Linked DNA regions of Homo sapiens. The protein of the gene in region 1 interacts with the protein of each later gene in a pairwise test. Each region holds a gene or a part of one and is shown in the gene's direction. Other genes may lie near its edges. The genes, in order: RAD51D, MEOX2, POLDIP3 and ZNF343.

Region 1 (3,604 bases):
CCTTTTCCAGAGCTTCATATAAATGGATCTTTTTGCTATTGAAGTAACTTTTTCTGCTTATGAGGTAGTTTTTTTAAAGTCTGCATGCTTCTCATAGAAAGGATAGAAAATAAATATGATTCAAATTTGTCATCAATCTCCACATCCACAGAAACCATATTAATATTTTTACATATCTCCATACAATACTTTTTCTGCATATTTACTTATACTTTTAGCCAACTTTCTTTCTTTCTTTTTTTTTTCTTTTGAGATAGGGTTTCGCTCTGTTTCCCAGGCTGGAGTGCAGGGGCACAATCACAGCTCACTGCAGCTCGACCTTCCAGGCTCAAGCAATCCACCCGCCTCAGCCTCCCAAAGTGTTGGTATTACAGGTGTGAGCCCACACTTAACCAGCTTTCTAACTAAACTAACCTCATGAAAAAATAAAAAAAAATAGGCCAGGTGCGCTGGTTTATGCGTGTAATCCCAGCACTTTGAGAAGCCAAGGCTGGTGGATCACTTGAGCCCAGGAGTTCGAGACTAGCCTGGGCAACATGGCAAAACCCCACCTCTACAAAAAATACAAAAACTAGGTGGCCTTGGTGGCAGGAGAATTGCTTGAGCCTGGGAGATCGAGGCTGCAGTGAGCTGTGATCATGCCACTGCACTCCAGCCTGGGCAACAGAGCAAAACCTCATCTCAAAAACAAACAAACCAAAACAACAACATAAAAAATACCATCTGAGTCCATTTCCTATGTTTTAAAATAGATTTTTTAGAAATGTAATTTTTAGCAGCTATATATTTTTTCCAGTTTCTTTTATTGTGGTAAAATACATGTAACATAAAATTTACTATCTTAACCACTTTAAGGTATACAGTTCGGTGGTGTTAAATACATTCATAACGCTGTACAACCATCACCACCATCCATCTCTATAACTCTTCACCTTGTAAAACTGAAACTCTGTACCCATTAAAAATAACTCATTTTCCCCTTCCCCAGCCCCTGACAACCACCATTCTACTTTCTGTATCTATGCTTTTTGACTACTCTAGGAACCTCATATACATGGAATCATATGGTATTTACTTTTTGTGACTGGAGTATTTCACTTAGCATAATGTCCAGAAGGTTCATCCACCTTGTAGCATGTGTCAGACTTTCCTTCCTTTTAAAGGCTGAGTGTCTGGGCGTGGTGGCCCACACTTGTAATCCCAGCACTTTGGGAGGCTGAGGCTGGCGGACTGCATGAGCTCAAGAGTTTGAGACCAGCCTGGAAAGCATGGTGACATGTGCCCCATCGCCTTCTGGTTCGGGTCAAACCTGAGGCATCGAGATTTAGTGGAAAGAGCGGGGCACAAGTCAGGAGGCCCAGGTTCTAGTTCCAGACCTGCCATTAGGTTTTGTAACCTTGGGGAAGTTATTTCTCTGTGCTAGGCCTCTGTTTTCCTCTCCGTAAAATGAAGCGGTAGTAATCGATGTCCTCTATACTAGCATTATGGATCTGTAAGTCTGTTTCTGCTGCAGGTGACCAACCACATAACTCGAGACAGGGACAGCGGGAGGCTCAAACCTGCCCTCGGACGCTCCTGGAGCTTTGTGCCCAGCACTCGGATTCTCCTGGACACCATCGAGGGAGCAGGAGCATCAGGCGGCCGGCGCATGGCGTGTCTGGCCAAATCTTCCCGACAGGTGAGCCAGCCCCAGGAAGATGCCAGTAATCTTGGGCCCTGGAGGGTGGTTTCCATACCCACAGATGTCTTCGAGAAGAACTCTTTAGAGGCTGAAACCTTGCAACTAAAGAAGCTACCCACTTGGGTTGCTTAACTCCACTGACTCCTTACTTCTTCTTCCAGCCAACAGGTTTCCAGGAGATGGTAGACATTGGGACCTGGGGGACCTCAGAGCAGAGTGCCACATTACAGGGTGATCAGACATGACCTGTGCTGTTGTTTGGGAAACAGGGAAGCATTGGGGACCCCTCCCAACTTTTCTTCCCAGTAACGCCTGCTGTTTACTGCCACCTGGCACTGGTGACTACAGACGTTCTCAGGCTGGCCAGAAGAGACATCTTGGGTTCCTTGGCCTCACTCTCTGTAAGCATATAAACCACAGGCGAAAGAGGATGCTGCATTGCGAGGACCCAGAAATTCATACTGGTGCCACGTTTCCTTCCCTTATTTCTAACGTGTATGTTTCTGGTGGAAACCAAGTTCACCCTGGCTGGGAGCATCTCTGATGAGGCATGCTGGCGACTGGATGGATAATCCTGTGCATCACCATTGTGTCCTGTGCTCCCTCCTAGCGCAGTGGCCAAGCCGGGAAAGCCTCTAACTTGCCTTTGCTGCTGCTGCCTTTTTTTTCTTTTGTCTCTGCCTTTCCATTTGTTAGATGGGGGCCCACTCTTCCTTAGCTCTGTCTCTGAGTTACTGGGTGGAAATAAGCTTATAAATGAAATACTCTTCTTCATCTCTGTTTTGCTCTTAAAAATATAAAAAGGCAATTCCCCGAGCCCTAGAGCCACCTGATTTCCCCTTAGAAGGCTGTTTTTCAGTTTCCCCCAGTGAGGCCCAAAGAACAGTTTATTCCTCCTTTCCTCTTGCTGATTTGGTTTCAGACCTGCCTGCATCACCATGACTAGGTGAGAACGTGTGGGCTCGCTGCAGTTCCAGGGATATAATTTAACAGAAAGGGAGGGTATGACCTGCTCCTGGTGAATCCAGCCACTCATTTAATATGCATGGTGCCCTGTGGGGCCCCTCCACAGTACAGCATAACCAGAGGTGCTGAACCATGGCCTTGCCCATAAACAGACAGAGGAGAATTTGCACAGTAAATAGAGCCAGCTGGGAAAATTGATGCTGACGTAAATAATACATGGCAAATCTAGTCCTTTATGCAGAAATTCATTGCTGGTGGCTCCAAGATGCAATATAATTACACCTCTCTTCCTGCCAGCTGTACCACAGCTAGTGCCCTAGTGTATGAAATAATCCCTCTGTCTTTCACCAGCACTGTGGCCATCCGTCTGAGAGCCATGACCCTGGCTGGGAGGGGACGAAGACACCAGGGAATGGAAAATAAAAGGAAAAGTACAGAAATGATCAGGATTGGTTACTGGCCACATCTTTTAAAGGAAGGTCATCTTTCTTGGTTAGAGAGCCTGTTGTGTAATTAATCAGTTATGTCTTGGCTGCAGGAAAGGAGGGTCCGAGTTACACTCAGAAAGTAATGACATTTAGAGGTGATGAATGCAACAGGGATAGAATCATGGAGGATTGGGAAGGAGTGGCAAACTGGCACCAGGGTGTTGGATTCAGGACAGGGTTGGTAAGCCTAAGCCTGGGGGAATCCTAGCGCTTGCTTTCACAGAAGACCTCAGGAGAAATTAATCTTCAGTATCTTTATACCATGGGTGATTGGCACATTCCTGCAACCACAGTAAGATGCAATACATGAAGCTGGAAATTGCAAATTCTTGCCACTCAAGGTACTATTTGGGCATCTTCAGCCCACAGCAGACATGACCAATCGGGCACAAGCACTCTTTTTTGTGGAAGTCAAAGTGTTTTTAGAAGTTTTTCTCAATATAGCACTCCAGGGGGCCACTACCAGTCA
Region 2 (3,604 bases), on another chromosome or scaffold:
TTATTACCAAATTAACAGAAAGTTACATGGTAAGTGTATGATCGAATGGGTTATTAATTTTCATGGGTCATGAGTGGGTTTTTAATTTTCCTCTATATTTGAAATTTTTGATATATAATTTCCGGAATAATAAGTAGCTCATTATTCCTGAAGCTTTCATTTATAATGTTACTTTGTGTACAGAAATATAATATTTCTAAATTTATATATGTTACTCACTACTAATTGTGCACTGTATTTTTAAATATTGGTTTTCACAGTGTTATGAAAATAATTTACATTTTTTTGGTTTCTTACATCACCATATGCACAAGAATGATCAGGTAGAATCCGTACTGTATCTATACATTTTTGGAAAGGGTTTGTATGAAAGATAGAAAAACCCTTTCAAAAATAATCCCTTGTTTTATCAATAGAATTAGAAATTAATAAACTGGATCATTAACTTGTATGATAATATTGTTATTTTATTTTTAAAATTTCCATTTATTTAAATGTTTAATAATTCTAAAATGTTTGTGTACCTTGATGACAATTCTTATGTCCTTACAATGTGTACTTTTATTGCAAATATAACATATTTTTACTAGGTAGTAACTCAGTGGTAAAAACTTTAGGGTACTGATTATAGCTCTAAATTCAAAAGCTGTTGCTCTTCAAAATTTTGTAGAATCAATTCAATGTGAATGTTTCAAATGTATTTAAGTATTCTGCTGTTTGTGTTCATAAGCTTTCTTTCTAAGATGTTAGACGTATGTTTCTTAAAGCTTGCATAGGCTACATTGATTAAAATTATGATTATAAGCTGCTTACTTTCATAGTTTTTTGTTTTTATTGTAGTCTAGTAGAGAGGACAATGGCAAGGAAAGGATAAAAGGGAGGGTGCTGAATTAACTAGGACATGGAAGCTATACTTAAAACACACGTTAAAAGAAGGCGTTTACTTTATATATGTATATACATATATAGGTATATGCACACTCACACCCACACATATATATGCATGCATTACTGTAACTCCAAATTTAATTTCCTGATAATAGTAAATCTGAATTAGAGCATCCTTATTAAATGCATAATATGATTATAAATGTTCCAATTACAAAATTAAATATTAAGCTTGAAGCATATATAGTTTTGTGAAGAGTCCAGCAGGCTTAAGCTGGCAATCAATGATAGTTATAAAAGTCCCTGCAGTTTTTGTTTTCTTTTGTTTTTCCTCTTTATTTAGCTCATTATTCTTCACACACTTCAAGAGAATCCCATAATGCTACAAGGAAAAAACAAATTCGCAGTTATCTTACGTGACTGTGGGCAAGAAAATGACTAAGGTGAAATCATCTGTCAGGCTCCGCAAAACCTAGAGGAGGGTCCAGCTTAGGTTGGCAGATGCCAGTAGAATTTTAAAGGCCTAGAATTTTACTCTTTGAAAATATAGCCTTAAATTTTTGCCAGAAATGACACCCAAATGAAAACTTATTTTTGCAAAGTGATAGTTATTTGCAAATGCAGTAGTGAAATATATTCAGAGTCTGTTGAGGTAGCTTGTCCACTGTCTGGACTGCACAGTAAACATTTGGATGGTTATTCTTAGCCACCCAAAAAACTAGCAAACTAAACTGAGGTGTATTCTTATTAGTTGAAAAGATTAAATGGGCATGCCTCTTATCAAATTAACAATGAATGCAAAGCAAATTTTGCAAATCATTGATTTATGTTGGTAGGTAACACAAACAGGAAACTATTCAGAAAAATAAATATGTGTTATCCGAAACGTAATGGGGACTAGCTTGGTTTTGTAGAACAACAGCAATTTAGCAAATAACTTTCACATTTAAAGAACCATATAAATAATGCTTTAGCACTCACTGCATAGGTTGGAATCAAGTGATGTCTTATTTAATATTATTCAAAGATAAAATGAGGTCTTAGTATGTGTAGTGCCTTTAACAATTAAAATTTTCTCACCTATAGGCTATGCTTACGTGGGAATTTCTTTTTCTTATTTGAAGTATAAACAGATCTGGATGCATTAAACTAGACAGAATGTAGATGTAAAAATGATTGAGACATATTAAAATGACAGGAAAGTCAGAGTTTAGGCATCCCTATTTGGAGGCTTGCTGCCACCCATGTTTCTAAGATTACAGTCTTGTGAATGTCCACACTCAAAATTCAGGGAATTATAAATAATTTTTCCTCCAGAACTATTCTTTGCTCCTGGAAGTAGAGCTGTATAATTTATTTTCTAGAATACCCAGATGTTTAGGAAAGTATAAGTAAGTGGCAACACTTTTGCATATTTAGCCATTAGTTGATAAATCATAAAAGATTTATCCTATTTCTTAATTATCATATTAGACAAGGAAATAGATGTCACACTCAAAGGGATAATTGAAGAGAGTTTGATGATGGCAATTTGATGGTGAGTAGAATGTAGGGAAACCACAGGAAATGATGAATCCCCCAGGGTCTGTCCACAGTTGGAATATATTAGCACCCCTAACCTGAGAGGGTAAATGCAGGGACCTCTTACCAGAATCCAATGAGCGCAACAGGACAGAAGCCTTCTGGAAAAGTTGGGACCTCAGATGGAGGATTGCAGCTCATGTCGAATATCATCCAGTAACCTGTCTTCATGTCCTCCAATCTTCTTTTGTTGCTTCCATTGATCAAACACTATCCGAAGCCAGAACCCCGGAGGGTTAGGTGGATGCAACCCTAAGAGTCAACCGAAGAAGAAATGAGGCAAGCATATCTGGGAGAACACAATAGTTAGGGCTAAACCCCCGCTGTGTCTCTTACTATTGTCACCTCTTGGCCACAAATTTAACTTTTCTCTACCATCGTTTCTGAAAAGGAAATTGAGTTAATATACACAAAGCAATTAGAACAATGTCTGGCTTAGTAAAGTGTCAGTTATTATTTTTATCATCTATCAATGAATGTACAATTATGTAATGCATATGCACCATCTGAAAATAATCTATTTTATGCTACCTGTTTGCATTTTATTACAAATACTGCTATAGGAAATGTAACTTGCCTAAGTAATTACTAAAGATTTAAAATAATCATTGTCCTTAGAATTGTAAACGGCATGAAATTTCCCTGAAATGTAAGGTGAATTCTAGCCAAGTTATGTAAGAGGCTCAAGTTGCCTTTCCCACCCTTAAGATTTCCATTCCACAGCCTCTTTTACTTGGACCTCTCCTAACTTCCTCTTCTCTTGGGTCTCCTGCTACTTCTCCATTGAAAAGCTGTTTTCAGGAAGAGTGCATATTGAGCAAAATAAAGAATAAAATGAGGACTCTTTTTTTTTTTTTGAGACCGAGTTTTGTTCTGTTGCCCAGGCTGGAGTGCAGTGGCGCAATCTTGACTCACTGCAACCTCTGCTGTCCGGGTTCAAGTGATTCTCCTGCCTCAGCCTCCTGAGTAGCTGGGACTACAGGCGCCCGCTAATTTTTATATTTTTAGTAGAGACGCGGTTTCACCATGTTGGCCAGGCTGGTCTCGAACTACCTACCTCAAGTGATCTGCCCACCTCGGCCTCTCAAAGTGCTGGGATTACAGGTGTGAGCCACCGCGCCCGGCCAGAACTTAA
Region 3 (3,604 bases), on another chromosome or scaffold:
CTCATGACTTAATCACTTCCCAAAGGCCACCACCTTCTACCACCATCACATTGCAGATTAGGCTTCAACAGAGGAATTTTGGGGGGACACAGATGTTCAGTCTGTATTACCGCCTTAGGTTTGGTACTGGCATATTGGAGGCAGCAGGTGTTTTTCCATTATTTGAGGGATAACAAGATGAAGGTCCACGTTTGCTTTTATTGGTACCAGGTAGACTCACCTTTGGCTGCACTTCTGGTATTCATTAGCAGAGGAACTGACAGCCAATCTCACTCCAGCCACTGGAATGCAGCAGTGGGAGAGTGCCAGTGACTGACCCAGTATGAGAGATGCCTCCTGGGAGGTCCAGGCAGTGAAGTGGGAGGCAATACAGGAACTCGTTTATGCAGCAGAGTTTACCCTCTAACAGCAGGTCAGAGATCCTCAACATGGCTCTTCTCCAGAATCACCCATGGAGTTAAAAATGCAGATGGCCAGGCCTCGCCCCAGATTTTGGATTCAGCATCTAGGGTGGGATCTGGACAGCTCTGTATTTAAGAAGCTCCACAGGAGTTTCTGACACTCAGCCAGGGCTCGATGCTGCTTAGGAGGTGCTGGGCCCTGCAAAAGGACTGAACCCCATTCTCCTCCCCCCGCCCCACCCAGGGTAGGGAGAGAAAAAAGGAAACAAGCAGGTATAATAATAGGCACAGAGGAGAGTTGGCCTGGAGAAATCCGGGAGGGTTTCCCAAAGAGCACCCCTTGACATAGGAGTCCGCAGGCAGAGCGTCTGCCGCATGAGTGGCCGTTGAGGGTAGCTATTGTAGAGAGGCCTGAGGGTGGGAGGCGACAGAAGAAGCCCAAAGACCTTGGGGAGGATCTCCAGCGCTATACTCAGGAGGGCCTTCTGTTCACTTTCAAGCCACTGTAGGCCAACAGAGGAACCCAAGAAAGAGACCGGGGCCTGTTTATGGAGTTTCATTCATTTCCAGTTAAAAAAAATATTTTATTTTAAATTCAGGGGGTACATGTACATGTTTGTTCCATGGATTATATTGCATACTGGTGAGGATTAGGTTTCTAGTGTACCCATTACCCAAATAGCGAACCCTGTACCCGATCATTTCCAATTTCAGTGGTTTCTGTATTTGATATTTTTGCTATTGCAATTTTTTCTTTCTTTCCTACCAAGTCTTTGTGTTTTCTGTTTTCCTCTAGCTCTAAGCCAGACCCATATGTTTGCTCTCTTGGTCTTAGCCCAGTAGATGGTGTCTGCCTTCCTTAGAGACACTCTTTGTTAATCATTGAGCCTCTCCAAACCTGCTTCTCCCACTGTAAAGTGGGCATAGTAAGTACTTCTCAGGGTGCTGAGAGGGCTGAGTGAGAACATGGATGGGGATGGGCCTTGGAAACTAAAGTTACTCCTCAGATGAGTGGGATTAGATTTGGTGGATGTTTATTTTATTTGACTGGCATTGTTGGGAAGTTATTGTCCATGTTGGTGTCTCAAGACACGTGGTCTAGGAAGCAAAACACTCTTAACTAGGAATAAAACTTGCCAGCCCCTCTCTCTTAATTTTGCTTAAAATGCAAAGTTAAAAGCCATCATGAAACCAGGAAAGGAGTCATCATGTAGGCATAATCGTTTATTCAATCACAGGCAAGGAGCCGCTTTCTGATTCTCCAGGGCCTCCTCTGTCCCCAGTGTTACCACAGTTCCGCTTTCATAGACTGCTGTAGATACCCAGATCCACTTAATATTGATTGCAATTTATATTTACAGGCTTAATGCCAGACCGGGAGTTGGAGGTGTCCGATCTCGAGTTGGGATCCAGCAAGGCCTTCTCAGCCAGTCAACACGCACAGCCACCTTCCAGCAGAGATTTGATGCCCGGCAGAAGATTGGCCTCTCAGATGCCCGGCTCAAACTGGGAGTCAAGGATGCCCGGGAGAAGCTTTTGCAGAAAGATGCCCGATTTCGAATCAAAGGGAAAGTGCAGGATGCCAGAGAGATGTTGAACTCTCGCAAGCAGCAGACCACGGTGCCCCAGAAGCCCCGCCAGGTTGCTGATGCCCGGGAGAAGATCAGCTTGAAGAGGAGTTCCCCTGCTGCCTTCATAAACCCACCCATTGGGACAGTGACCCCTGCTCTGAAGCTCACCAAAACCATCCAGGTGAGTTGTGGCTTTTGTCATGAATTCCCAGAAAGCTAGTAACAAAGGTAGATTTAGAGGCAAGGTGCCAGGAGTGACTGGGCAAAAATACTATCCTCTCAAGTGTTGGCATAATACAGACTTTGCTCCTTACAGAGGCTTTAAGTACGTTATAGCCAAGGAACTATACAAGGAAGGAAAGGTATTATCTCAGTTCTAAAAAAAAAGAAAAAGGAGGCCCATAGAAATTTGGTGACTTTCCCAGGTGAGATACTGGTGGAAGAAAGAGAGAGGAAAGGACAAAAGATTTATTGAGCACATGCTATGTGGCAGGCCCTTAATATCTGTGACCTTACAGTCCTCACTCCACCCCCAGGCCCAGTGGGATTTGGCCCCTAGTCCAAGGCCCTGGCCACCCTTCACAGCTGCCACCACAGAGGGAAAGGAAACAATGTCATTTAACCTTCATAGCAGCTTTGGTAATAGGAACAGCAGCGGCCACAGCAAACATTTACTGAGCCAAGTCCATTAAGCCCTACATGTGCGTTACCGGCATGGTCTCTGGATTGATGATTCTTCTGTTACTTCCTACTGTGGAGGATAAGGCCCTCTGTAGTGCCTTTTACCAAAGACCAAAGCTGCATGCCCACCATGTATCAAGTTCAGTAACCCCCTTCTTCTAGAGAATGCATGTGGACCCTGTGGGGTGGATTCTGACCACTGAGTGTTTCCAGGTTCCACAGCAGAAAGCCATGGCACCACTTCATCCCCATCCTGCCGGAATGAGAATCAATGTTGTCAATAACCACCAGGCCAAACAGGTAGAGTGAGTGAGTGAGAGAGAGAGAGAGAATCTGTGTGTACATAGCGAACATGTAGGTGTGCACGTGTTTTGATGAGGCCTACTTGGGTGGATGGACTGAGGCTTGCTCAGTTGGTAGTTCCCAGTTGGTAGTATTGGAGGCAGGGTTACAGCGAACTTTTTGCAATTTGAGTTTAAAGAAGAAATTTTTTTTATTTTTTTATTTTTTGAGACGGAGTCTCGCTCTGTCGCTAGGCTGGAGTGCAGTGGCGTAATCTCGGCTCACTGCAACCTCTGCCTCCCGGGTTCAAGTGATTCTCCTGCCTCAGCCTCCTGAGTATCTGGGACTACAGGCGCGTACCACCACACCCAGCTAATTTTTGTATTTTTAGTAGAGATGGGGTTTCACCATGTTGGCTAGGATGGTCTCAATTTCTTGACCTTGTGATCCCCCCGCCTCAGCCTCCCAAAGTGCTGGGATTACAGGCGTGAGCCACCACACCCAGCCAAGAAGAAACTTCTTAATAGAGGAAGGGAGGCATAGGGGGCAGAGAGGCTAAAAAAAGTTTTGTTTGTTTTTTTTAATTTTTTTACGCTTTTTTTTTTTTTGTCTTTTGTTTTGTTTTTTTTTCCTTTTTCTGGAGAACGGGGTCTCGCTATATTGCCCAGG
Region 4 (3,604 bases), on another chromosome or scaffold:
CTGATGGTAGTTTCTTTTGCTGTGCAAAAGCTCTTTAGTTTAATTAGATCCCGTTTGTCAATTTTGGCTTTTGTTGCCATTGCTTTTGGTGTTTTAGACATGAAGTCCTTGCCCATGCCTATGTCCTGAATGGTATTGTCTAGTTTTTCTTCTAGGGTTTTTATGGTTTTAGGTCTAACATTTAAGTCTTTAATCCATCTTGAATTAATTTTTGTATAAGGTGTAAGGAAGGGATCCAGTTTCAGCTTTCTACATATGGCTAGCCAGTTTTCCCAGCACCATTTATTAAATAGGGAATCCTTTCCCCATTTCTTGTTTTTGTCAGGTTTGTCAAAGATCAGATGGTTGTAGATATGCGGCATTATTTCTGAGGGCTCTGTTTTGTTCCATTGATCTATATCTCTGTTTTGGTACCAGTACCATGCTGTTTTGGTTACTGTAGCCTCGTAGTATAGTTTGAAGTCAGGTAGCGTGATGCCTCCAGCTTTGTTCTTTTTGCTTAGGATTGACTTAGGGCTGTTTTTTGGTTCCATATGAACTTTGAAGTAGTTTTTTCCAATTCAGTGAAGAATGTCATTGGTAGCTTGATGGGGATGGCACTGAATCTATAAATTACCTTGGGCAGTATGGCCATTTTCACAATATTGATTCTTCCTACCCATGAGCATGGAATGTTCTTCCATTTGTTTGTATCCTCTTTCATTGAGCAGTGGTTTGTAGTTCTCCTTGAAGAGGTCCTTCACGTCCCTTGTAAGTTGGATTCCTAGGTATTTTATTCTCTTTGAAGCAATTGTGAATGGGAGTTCACTCATGATTTGGCGCTCTGTTTGTCTGTTATTGGTGTATAAGAATGCTTGTGATTGTTGCACATTGATTTTGTATCCTGAGACTTTGCTGAAGTTGCCTATCAGCTTAAGGAGATTTTGGGCTGAGACAATGGGCTTTTCTAGATATACAAGCTTGTCGTCTGCAAACAGGGACAATTTGACTTCCTCTTTTCCTAACTGAATACCCTTTATTTCCTTCTCCTGCCTGATTGCCCTGTCCAGAACTTCCAACAATTATGTTGAATAGGAGTGGTGAGAGAGGGCATCCCTGTCTTGTGCCAGTTTTCAAAGGGAATGCTTCCAGTTTTTGCCCATTCAGTATGATATTGGCTGTGGGTTTGTCATTGATAGCTCTTATTATTTTGAGATATGTCCCATCAATACCTCATTTATTGAGAGTTTTTAGCATGAAGGGTTGTTGAATTTTGTCAAAGGCCTTTTCTGAATCTATTGAGATAATCATATGGTTTTTGTCGTTGGTTCTGTTTATATGCTGGATTATGTTTATTGATTTGCATATGTTGAACCAGCCTTGCATCCCAGGGATGAAGACCACTTGATCATGGTGGATAAGCTTTTTGATGTGCCGCTGGATTTGGTTTGCCAATATTTTATTGAGGATTTTTGCATCGATGTTCATCAGGGATATTGGGTCTAAAATTTTATGTTGTTGTTGTGTCTCTGCCAGGCTTTGGTATCAGGATGATGCTGGCCTCATAAAATGAGTTAGGGAGGATTCCTTCTTTTTCTATTGCTTGGAATAGTTTCAGAAGGAATGGTACCAGCTCCTCCTTGCACCTCAGGTAGAATTCGGCTGTGAATCCATCTGGTCTTGGACTTTTTTTGGTTGGTAAGCTATTAATTATTGCCTCAATTTCAGAGTCTATTCAGAGATTCAACTTCTTCCTGGTTTAGTCTTGGGAGGGTGTATGTGTCCAGGAATTTATCCATTTCTTCTAGATTTTCTAGTTTATTTGCGTAGAGGTGTTTATAGTATTCTCTGACGGTAGTTTGTATTTCTATGGGATCAGTGGTGATATCCCCTTTATCATTTTTTATTGCGTCTATTTGATTCTTCTCTCTTTTCTTCTTTATTAGTCTTGCTAGCGGTCTATCAATTTTGTTGATCTTTTCAAAAAACCAGCTCCTGGATTCACTGATTTTTTTGAAGGTTTTTTTGTGTCTCTATTTCCGTCAGTTCTGCTCTGATCTTAGTTATTTCTTGCCTTCTGCTAGCTTTTGAATGTGTTTGCTCTTGCTTCTCTAGTTCTTTTAATTGTGATGTTAGGGTGTCAGTTTTAGATTTTTCCTGCTTTCTCTTGTGGGCATTTAGTGCTATAAATTTCCCTCTACACACTGCTTTGAATGTGTCACAGAGATTCTGTTATGTTGTGTCTTTGTTCTCGTTGGTTTCAAAGAACATCTTTATTTCTGCCTTCATTTCATTATGTACCCAGTAGTCACTCAGGAGCAGGTTGTTCAGTTTCCATGTAGTTGAGCGGTTTTGAGTGAGTTTCTTAATCCTGAGTTCTAGTTTGATTGCACTGTGGTCTGAGAGACAGTTTGTTATAATTTCTGTTCTTTTACATTTGCTGAGGAGTGCTTTACTTCCAACTATGTGGTCAATTTTGGAATAAGTGCGGTGTGGTGCTGAGAAGAATGTATATTCTGTTGATTTGGGGTAGAGAGTTCTGTAGATGTCTATTAGGTCTGCTTGGTGCAGAGCTGAGTTCAATTCCTGGATATCCTTGTTAACTTTCTGTCTTGTTGATCTGTCTAATATTGATAGTGGGGTGTTAAAGTCTCCCATTATTATTGTGTGGGAGTCTAAGTCTCTTTCTAGGTCTCTAAGGACTTGCTTTATGAATCTGGGTACTCCTGTGTTGGGTGCATATATATTTAGGATAGTTAGCTCTTTTTGTTGAATTGATCCATTTACCATTATGTAATGGTCTTGTCTCTTTTGATCTTTGTTGGTTTAAAGTCTGTTTTATCAGAGACTAGGATTGCAACACCTATCTTTTTTTGTTTTCCATTTGCTTGGTAGATCTTCCTCCATCCATTTATTTTGAGCCTATGTATGTCACTACATGTGAGATAGGTTTCCTGAATACAGCACACTGATGGGTCTTGACTCTTTATCCAGTTTGCCAGTCTGTGTCTTTTAATTGGAGCATTTAGCCCATTTACATTTAAGGTTAATATGGTTATGTGTTAATTTGATCCTGTCATTATGATGTTAGCTGGTTATTTTGCTCGTTAGTTGATGCAGTTTCTTCCTAGCCTCAATGGTCTTTACAATTTGGCATGTTTTTGAGGTGGCTGGTACCGGTTGTTCCTTTCCATGTTTAGTGCTTCCTTCAGGAGGTCTTTTAGGGCAGGCCTGGTGGTGACCAAATCTCTCAGCATTTGCTTGTCTGTAAATTATTTTATTTCTCCTTCACTTACGAAGCTTAGTTTGGCTGGATATGAAATTCTGGGTTGAAAATTCTTTTCTTTAAGAATGTTGAATATTGGCCCCCACTCTCTTCTGGCTTGTAGAGTTTCTGCCGAGAGATCAGCTGTTAGTCTGATGGGCTTCCCTTTGTGGGTAACCCGACCTTTCTCTCTGGCTGCCCTTAACATTTTTTCCTTCATTTCAACTTTGGTGAATCTGACAATTATGTGTCTTGGAGTTGCTCTTCTCGAGGAGTATCTTTGTGGCGTTCTCTGTATTTCCTGAATTTCAGTGTTGGCCTGCCTTGCTAGGTTGGGGAAGTTCTCCTGGATAATATCCT

What was found.
Region 2: the proteins of RAD51D (region 1) and MEOX2 interact in a two-hybrid assay, tested with the Homo sapiens proteins (one large-scale study listed by BioGRID).
Region 3: the proteins of RAD51D (region 1) and POLDIP3 interact in a two-hybrid assay, tested with the Homo sapiens proteins (one large-scale study listed by BioGRID).
Region 4: the proteins of RAD51D (region 1) and ZNF343 interact in binary tests that used the Homo sapiens proteins (3 or more experiments, as listed by UniProt).

What each region holds. Positions count from the first base shown.
Region 1 is NC_000017.11:35,099,275-35,102,878, reverse strand, and holds part of RAD51D (DNA repair protein RAD51 homolog 4), read left to right. Parts: intron 1-1,513; coding exon 1,514-1,678; intron 1,679-1,842; coding exon 1,843-1,926; 3' UTR 1,927-3,604. UniProt on the Homo sapiens protein: Involved in the homologous recombination repair (HRR) pathway of double-stranded DNA breaks arising during DNA replication or induced by DNA-damaging agents. Bind to single-stranded DNA (ssDNA) and has DNA-dependent ATPase activity.
Region 2 is NC_000007.14:15,676,580-15,680,183, reverse strand, and holds part of MEOX2 (homeobox protein MOX-2), read left to right. Parts: exon of another isoform or gene 1-1,270; intron 1,271-2,536; exon of another isoform or gene 2,537-2,721; intron 2,722-3,604. UniProt on the Homo sapiens protein: Mesodermal transcription factor that plays a key role in somitogenesis and somitogenesis and limb muscle differentiation. Required during limb development for normal appendicular muscle formation and for the normal regulation of myogenic genes.
Region 3 is NC_000022.11:42,601,319-42,604,922, reverse strand, and holds part of POLDIP3 (polymerase delta-interacting protein 3), read left to right. Parts: intron 1-1,762; coding exon 1,763-2,153; intron 2,154-2,815; coding exon of another isoform or gene 2,816-2,866; coding exon 2,867-2,953; intron 2,954-3,604. UniProt on the Homo sapiens protein: Is involved in regulation of translation. Is preferentially associated with CBC-bound spliced mRNA-protein complexes during the pioneer round of mRNA translation. Contributes to enhanced translational efficiency of spliced over nonspliced mRNAs.
Region 4 is NC_000020.11:2,502,390-2,505,993, reverse strand, and holds part of ZNF343 (zinc finger protein 343), read left to right. Parts: intron 1-3,604. UniProt on the Homo sapiens protein: May be involved in transcriptional regulation.